2 separate regions of the Homo sapiens genome follow, and region 1 is linked to region 2. The links come from fine-mapping of genetic effects on gene expression. A gene starts in region 2. The other region holds a variant in brackets. All regions are shown on one strand. Distances are from middle to middle.

What was found. PIP is the estimated chance that this variant, and not a neighbour inherited with it, causes the effect. A credible set is the group of variants that fine-mapping cannot tell apart.
Region 1: its variant is the best candidate, but not a certain one, in a credible set for the expression of KLK1 in sun-exposed skin (GTEx, PIP 0.87).

Annotation. Positions count from the first base shown.
Region 1 is chr19:50,801,799-50,806,035 of GRCh38, forward strand. SNORD88C (small nucleolar RNA, C/D box 88C) reads right to left here and starts at 623; the gene lies at 527-623. It also overlaps the pseudogene C19orf48P and the pseudogene TMEM277P. RefSeq lists enhancers at 223-723, 2,876-3,125 and a silencer at 3,376-3,425. The variant T/C (reference allele first, on the strand shown) is at 1,893.
Region 2 is chr19:50,821,282-50,825,791 of GRCh38, forward strand. It overlaps KLK1 (kallikrein 1), which reads right to left and starts at 2,506. Exons shown (of 5, transcript NM_002257.4): 1 at 2,422-2,506; 2 at 431-590. The coding sequence starts at 2,467. KLK15 (kallikrein related peptidase 15) reads right to left here. Exons shown (of 6, transcript NM_017509.4): 6 at 4,008-4,510.

The DNA.
Region 1 (4,237 bases), 20 kb before region 2:
CCCAGCTATTTTTTGTATTTTTAGTAGAGATGGGGGTTTTCACCATGTTGGTCAGGCTGGTCTTGAACCCCTGACCTCATGATCCACCTGCCTCGGCTTCCCAAAGTGCTGGGATTACAGGCGTGAGCCACTGTGCCCGGCCTAATTTTTTGTATTTTTAGTAGAGACGGGGTTTCACCATGTTGGCTGGGCTGGTCTCGAACTCCTGACCTCAGGTAATCCACCTACCTCAGCCTCCCAAAGTGCTGGAATTACAGGTGTAAGCCACTGCGCCCAGCCTGAGATGGTTTTTGTATGTAAACACTGAGTACAATCATTGGCACATCAATCAGTTTCTAGAGGTACGGTATGAAGTCAACCTAGACAGTGAGATATTTTAAACCCAGGTGAGTGAAGGAGCAGGAGCAAGGGTTCTTACCTGGATAGGCATGGTGGGTGGTCCTAAGCTTGAAGCTGCACCTGTAACACAGAAAGACACAGTGAGAGTGGGGGAGGAAACAGTCTGCAAGTCCACAAGCCATTAAAACTGGGGCCCCTCAGACCCCCAGGTGTCAAAGGTCCTGGGGTGCACTGTGTCCTCAGGGGTGATCAGAGCCCAGTGCTGGACATCATGGGAGCCCCAGCCCCTCTGCAACCAGGTCCTGAGGCCACTTACCTTCAGGGACAGAGGCCAAGCTAACAGAGCTTAAAGAGTAGGAAACGCGGCCGGGCACGGTGGCTCACGCCTGCAACCTCAGCACTTTGGGAAGCCGAGGTGGGCAGATCACGAAGTCAGGAGTTCGAGACCAGCCTGGCCAATATGGTGAAACCCTGTCTCTATTGAAAATACAAAATTAGCCAGGCGTGGTGGAGAATGCCTGTAATCTCAGCTACTCGGGAGGCTGAGGCAGGAGAATTGCTTGAACCCAGGAGGCGGAGGTTGCAGTGAGCCAAGTCGTGCCACTGCACTCCAACCTGGGCGACAGAGCAAGACTTGTCTCAAAAAGAGTAGGAAATGCAAAACTCATCCAGAAGGTAGGAATGACCAGTTTTGCTCATGGAGACACCAAGATGCCCCAACCTCCCCAGTGTCACAGGTCCTCGGGGGACTGTCCTCATGGGATGGGTAGGACCCCAAATGCACTACATGAAGATGTCCCCGGTGTTCATCCCCCACTGTTTGCAGGTTTCTTTAGCACTGCCTACATCTGCACATAACCCATAAACAGAGAAAGCTGCCAAGACACAAATCCCCTGGAAGAACTTATTGAGAGAAGGAAGAAGAAACAAAGCCAACTTGTAAATAATAATGAGGAGAGACCCTCGACTGAGTCAGGTTTGAACATATCAGCTGTAAAAGACATTTCGAAGATGACTGAGGAACAACAGGCACAAAGCAGATTGTTAAATTGCAGTATTAAGGGTGACAATGCTAATAACATTAAGTAGAAAAATGTTACTGTAGGTACACAAGTACACTATTTTGAGTGAAATATGAACCTTTCTTTCAAGTAAGAGTCTGCTCTGTTGCCCAGGCTGGAGTGCAGTGGCGCGATCTTGGCTAAAGGCATTCTCCCACTTCCTTCATAAGTAGCTGGGACTACAGGCCCGCACCACCACGCTTGGCTCACTTTACTATTTTTTTGTAGAAATGGGGTTTTGCCATGTTGCTCAGGCTGGTCTTGAACTCCTAGGGTCAAGCGACCCACCCACCTCGGCCTCCCAAAGTGCTGGGATAACAGGCATGAGCCACCGCGTTCGGCCATGAAACTTACTTTCAAAACACTTAAGCACAAGGTTTTTGAATATGGCAAGATGGTGCAAATGTTAACTTTTCCCATTTGTTGGTAGATTTTAATATTGCCAAAGGACGACGTGCCAACGATGAATGCATGAAAAAATACTTTCACTTG[T/C]GACATGAACAAACTCAACGATTTTCTAGGTGGTTGCCTGAAGGAGGTAAGTCAAGTAGAGATCCTTGCTGGGGTCGTGGTGGGGGAGATAGGAAATGGGCTAGCTGCTTCCAGGCTGAGCCTCCTCGGCAGGGGCATGGGCCCCGCTCAAGTCAGGAAACCGATGTTCAAGACCTTAAAGGACCTAAGCCAAAAACTAACGTTAACAAAACCCTCTCACGTGGCATGAACGGTCAGAACGACTCCCGCAGGTAAGCAAAGGCCTCGTTTGCTTCCTTCTATATCCATTCCTACACGACTCTCAAACCCGGCAATTCACCTAGAAACTTCACTCTCACTTCTTTGGTAACTCGATACCCTATCTGTGCCCCCATGGAACCCCCCAAAACCCTCTCCCGTCCCCCAGTCTTTGTTCTAGGTTGCACAAAAATGCCAGCCATCCAGAATTTTAAAAGCAAGAGAGAATTCCTAAGGAAGCACCTGTAGGTAGCACGAAAATGGAAACACTCGGAAAGAACTCAATGTCGCCTCCCAGCCCGCCCACCCCTCTCCCCCAACCAAATCGACAAGATGGCGGAGGCCCGCGGCGTGCGGGCAGCACAAGGGGCGAGCTCCGCCGCGGGGCAGACGGAGGGGGGTCCGCCCCAGCATCCCCGCTCGCGCCAGCTATAGGAGTCGCAAACTCCCAGGCGGCCCAAACAGCCACCACCATCCCCGCAGAAAACTCCCAGGCTCGCCCCGGAGGGCGCTCTCTGGGTCCTTGCAAACGCCCTGACCCTTTCCACGCGACTACATGGCCGCTCCCGTCGCAGCCTCGAACCCTTCAGGACACGTGCGTCTTTCCACACAGCCGGAAAAAGTAATAAACTTAAGAACCTCACCCCAGCATTTCTCTCTCCGAAGCGGGCGCGGGTTGCAGCACGCGCCATTTTATAGTGCGCGCCGCTCGCAAGGCCGGTCCTCGGCGCCAGCCCGCGCTCCGCCCGAGGCGTCCAATACACACGCCTGTTTGGGAAACCCCATTTCATGCTTAGGGAAAGGAATACTGCCTGCTTCCGCTAGAATCTTCCTGAACAAGCGAGGAGACGCTGTCTCTGGGGCTGACAAAAAGGGGCAAGGATATGATGGAAACGATTGTCTTGTCCCCTGCGTCCGGCAATTCTGAAGACAGCATCAAAGATGGGCCGTGAAGAGAAAGGACCCCGAGGGCGGCCCGACACGAGAGAGAATCCGCTGGGACTATTTGCGCGGCAGGGGCTTGAGCTGAGTGAGGCTGCAGAGGCGGGGCCCAAGCCGAAGGGCCGGACCCAAATTAAGTCCCAGCCACTGGGCTGGAGGCGGGGCCAGTGTGGAGATTGACAGGGGGCCGTCCTGGGAAAGCGCCCACGTGGCGCAGAATTAGAGGCGGAGCCTACACGGTGACGCAAGGGCCGGAAGGAGGGACCCTGTGTCTGGAGAAGCGGGAGATGGGGGCCTGGACCCCTGGGTCTGAGGGAGGAGGGGCTGGGGTCGTGATTCCCGTGTTTGGGAGAAAAGGGGGTTGGGAGCTGGGACTCCTGGGGCCGAGGGAGGCCTTTGGGGCTCCCACTCAGTTTTGACGGTCTAAGGCCTGGGGGCCTGGATTCTTGGTAGGGTTGGAGATCTCAGGAGTGTCTTTCCACTGATAGGATTATACATTCTTTCCACTTATATGATTATTTTGAAAATTAAAAAATGAAACTTCTCTACTCCAAACTCACTTTCTAGGAGTTTCACTGTCAACAATTTGGTGTGGACTTTATGTTTTCTTTTTTCAGATGGAGTCTTGCTCTGTCGCCCAGGCTGGAGTCCAGTGGTGTGATCTCAGCTCACTTCATCCTCCGCTTCCCGAGTTCAAGCAATTCTCGTGCCTCAGCCTCCCGAGTAGCTGGGATTACAGGTGCCTATCACCACGCCCAGCTAATTTTTTTGCATGTTTAGTAGAGACAGGGTTTCACCATATTGGCCAGGCTGGTCTCGAACTCCTGACCTCAAGTGATCTGCCTGCCTCAAACCTCCCAAAGCACTGGGATTACAGGTGTGAGCCACCACGCCTGGCCTGGTATGGACTTTATATATATATACACACACACACACACACACACACACACACATATTATGGATAAAGATACTTTTTTCCACTCTAATCTGTCCCATAAGTTGTTTCCCCACATGAGTACGTACAGAATTATCTCATTCACTGAACAATGGCAACGGGCTCCTTTGTGTGAATTGAACACGCTTTGTTTAGCGGGTCCCTGGTCATTTGGGTTGTTTTCTTCTTTCTAGTGAGGAGATTCCTTTCATGAACCTTGTGGTCTGGAGTA
Region 2 (4,510 bases):
GGGGCCTCCCTTAGGTCCATCTGGGTGTGTGTTTAGTAGGGATGAGGGAGCGGTGAGGTAGAGACCCAGAGAGAGAGAGATGGGTAGAGAGATGGAGGGTGAGACACAGTGACAGAGATGCCGCAGAGAGACTCAGAGACAGACAGAGACAGGGGAGATGCAGAGACAAGGAGACAGAGGAGAGAGAGGAAGACAGAGACCAGAACACAGTCACACAGAGACACAAGCAGAACCAGATCCCAAGAGACCCAGGCAGCCTTGGAGAGGGGTGTCCAGCCCAGCTCTGCCCTGCCAGGCGACCTGCGCCAGAGCCTTCCTCTCTGCCTCAGCCCCCCAGTCTTGCCTGAGGTTATCCAAGGGGAATGCCACTGGCCTGTCAATCCTGTGGCAGCATAGATGCCCTCCTCCCAGACCCCAGGCCCCTACTCACTCGCTGATGCAATGAGCAGCTGTGAGCACCCACTGGCGGTGCACCAGGATGCCCCCACACTGGAAAGTGCTGAAATGGTACAGAGCCGCCTGCCAGGGCTGGGAATGCTGCTCACACTCCCAGCCTCCCACAATCCGGGACTGAATCGGGGGCGCAGCACCTGCAGAGGCGGTGCTGGGTCAGGAAGGGCAGGGTTGGCAGGAGAGGCCAGGGACAAGGCTAGGAGAGGGAGCTGGGCTGTGGGTCTGAAGGGACATTGCGGGTAGAGGACCAGGGCTGGAGGTTGGGGACATGGGCAAGGGGTGTTGGGAAGGGGTGGGACTCTGGACTGTTCCCTGGGCTTTTGGAGTGGTGGCTGGACCTGGTGGGGAGATTTTGTGCTCTGACAGTAGAGCAGCCTCCAGGGATCAGGGTAGGAGACAGGAGACAGTGTCTGGAGCAGACACTGCATCTGGGCGTCAGGTCATTTGGGGTCTGGGGCTGGGGGATGGGAGGTGGTGGGTTAGGGGAGTGGAAAGGGATTCTGGAAACCAGGGATCAAGGCGCCAAGGGTGGGACAGGATCAGAGGCTCACTGAGGAAGAATCTGGAGGGCTAAGGGGCTCCTAGGCTAGGGAAACAGGACCTGGGTTGGGCTTTTGAGGTTCAGGAAAGGATGCAGCTTTAGGGAACCAGGTCTGAGAGGTAAAGAAGAGCATCTGGACTGAAGAGTTTGGGGGTGACTTGGGGTCCCTACATTGGGGTTGGAAGGGGCCAGCTTGGCTGGGACAGTTAGATTTCAGGGCTTCCTGGTTAAAGGGTAAAAGAAAGGGCTATGGTTAAGGCTAGAGGTGGGCTTCCGAGAGGTTTTGGGGTCCTTCCTGTGAACCAGGAATGGCAATCTGAGGGGAGGTTGGGGCCCTGAGAACACAGTTGCGGTCAGGACTGGGACGGGGCTCAGGAGGAGGGAGGCGTGAGTGGCAGTCCTTCTCGGACAGGGTGAAGGATGGGATCTTCGTTTCTCATGGGGATGGGGTTCATGGTCTGAGGGTACTGGAAGGATATGGGGTCCTCTTGGAGGCAATCCTAGGAAGAGGATTGGAGAAGTGGTGAGAACAGGCGCCAAGCAGCTGTGGGAATGCAATGCAGGACCCACTTGACGTGAGGTTGTAGAATCACATACTGACTTGGGGGAGGCCAGGGCAGAAGCGCTGGCTGAGAAGGCATTCAGGATCCTTGGGGTGGGGTTCCAGAAAACCAGAGCTGTGTAGGAACAATTCAGGCAGAGAAGGGCTGGGGCCTGGGGCGGGATGGAACTTCCCCAAGGAAAGGAGCATGTGGTGGGAGGGTGTGGTGTTTTTCCTGGGAGAGCTGGGGGTGCTGGGTGGGAAGGGACATTTGCAGACCCCCCCCCATACCAGATGGGGGATCCCACATGCCAGTTTGGGAAGCAGGGTTTTCTGGTGAAATTTGGGGGACCCTGGAAGGACTGGGGAGACCAGATGTCAGGGTCTGGAGGACACAGTTGAGAGCGGACAGCTGGATGGAAAAAGTCACTGGAGTGTGGTGGGATTTGTAGACTCAGGAGCCAAATAGGTGGCCGCAGGGAACTAGGGGGCAGGAGGGGATGATCAGAGTCCTGTGGGGTGGGGGAAGCCCATGGGAGGGTTGGGGTCCTCCAGAGAGAGACAGAGATGGCCCAGAATCTGCCCCTTTGGTAAAGCGGTGGGACAGGGCGTTGGCTAGGGAAGAGGAGAAAGTACTGAGGCTTCCTGGGAGGAGCAGGAATCTGGTGTGGGAGTGAGCACTATGACAACATGGAGGAGCGGGGGTGGAAGTTTAGGGTGGGGCCGCGCAAGATAGATAAGAGCCGGGGCACCCCGGACTAGGATAGACTGTGGGCCAGAGGGATGAGGGTGGGGTGTTGGAGGGGAAGGTCTTATCGGGGGGGGATGTGAGGCCAGCAAGAGAATCAGGGCCCGTTCCCCCTCCCACATCCCCCCACTGTCTCACCAGTCCCCCCCAGGGACAGGGCGAGGCACAGAACCAGGAACCACATGGTGACAGAGGTGTCCAGGGGCCAGCAGGTGGAGGAACTGGGGAACCTCCCTGGGGAGGCTTTTAAAAGCCCTTATCCCCTCAGAGCCCCACCCCTGCCCTGCTGGCACCCAGATGTTGGCCAAGGCCCTTCCCCTGTTGCCTGGGGGCTGGACAATTGCCCCCCCCCCCTCCGATCCCCAGAGCTGTAGACGGGGAGGGAGAACCAGCACCTGTTCTGCAGGCCCTGGATCACGCTGGACGCATTCCTGGGGTTGAAGCCAGGTGGGGCAGGGCCTGTGGCTCTGGGGCTTTGCTCTGGGGAGCAGCCAGTGAGGCAAGGGGGGACTGAGGGGAAGCAGAAACAGGAAGACGGAGGAATCAGTGACCCCTGGTACAAAGCCCCATATACCTCAGTCTCAATTAAGGCCCTGCACCCCCAGACCTGGTGCCCTCAAACACCAGCAGTTAGGGCTCTGATTCCCTGCACCACTCGGAGCCAAGATACTAGCATCTCAGCTGCCAGTTCCCCCTGAAATATAAGCCTTGGCCTTCAGAATGCCCTGGTTCTTGCACTCCCAGACCCAGGACCTAGGTCCCCAAAGCTACTGTTCCTTTCATAATAAAATTTTGGGGTACACATCACCACATTCCTAGTGCCTCCAGATCCAGGAATGTGAAGTTTCAGGGGTCTCCCAGGGTAAGTTCTTTAGCATTACAAAATCCAGTGTCCCTCCCAAACAATGCTGGGGTCTCAATGAGCCTCCCACTTCTTGCTCCCAGTTATGGGTGCTCAACGTCCTGTCCTCCAAAGTCCCAGAGATCTGGACAACCTTCCCTCCCAGGTCAAGATCAGGCTAACCACAGATTCCAATGACCCTTCCCCCCCACCACCAGTACAATATTTAGGTCTCACGAGCCAGGTTCATGTACTTCAACATTCAGCGACCTTGAACATCACATTTTGTGGTCTCTGAAGATAATTAGGAACTAGATTCCTGCAGCCTCAATGGTAAACCCATAGGCTTCCAACAGGTTGTCTTGGCTTTTTGGTAAAATCAAAGCAGCTCAGAGTTCCAGCCTCTGCTGTATATCAGGGACCTGGCTAAGGAAAGGACAGTATTTGCCTTTTTGCCATGGCTACCAGGAAGCCCAGAACTAAATCTTTTTTTTTTTTTTTTTTTTTCTGAGATGGAGTCTTGCTCTGTCACCAGGCTGGAGTGCAGTGGCGCGATCTCGGCTCACTGCAACTCCTGCCTCCTAAGTTCAAGCGATCCTCCCACATCACCCTCCCAAGTAGCTAGGATTACAGTCGTGTGCCACCACGCCCGGCTAAATTTTTTTAGTATTTTTAGTAGAGATGGGGTTTCACCATGTTGGCCAGGCTGGTCTTGCACTCCTGACCTCAAGTGAGCCGCCCGCCTTGGCCTCCCAAAGTGCTGGGATTACAGGTGTGAGCCACCATGCCCGGCCCAGAACTAAACCTTAAAGAAAAAGCCATTCTTGGTAATCTAGTGTCTGTTAGGTCCTTTAACTGGGATCCAGAGATAGAGGGTATTTACTCAGTGCCAGACACGATTTTAATCAGTTCAGACGAATCATCTCATTTAATCCTCACAACAGCCCTTTGAAGTCAGCAATAAGATGGTCTCATTTTACAGATAAGGAAACCAAGGCGAAGTGAGATTGGGCCTCTTGTTCAAGATCACACGGGTGGTCATGTGTGTTGAATGAATGGAGCCCTGCTTCAAGCCGCTTCTCCTCACCTAGGGATCGGGGTGGTGGGTGAAAAGGAACAGTGTACAGTGTCTCGGGGTTTCTCTTTGACCCCAGAAAAAAGTCACAGAAATTCCTACAGAGCAACTTGGATCAGCGCTTTGTTATCTTGGCATTAAACAGGTGACCTTGAGCGCCAGCTTTGTCCTCAGGTGGGACAAGTCCTTGGCTAACATCTGGGCCTTGGACAGGGTCTTGGGGGATGGCTCCGTTCTGTTCCATGTCAGGCGGGGCTGCTGGCCAGCTGTGGGGGCTTCTGCTCAGTCAGGGGCACAGGAGATAGGCTAGA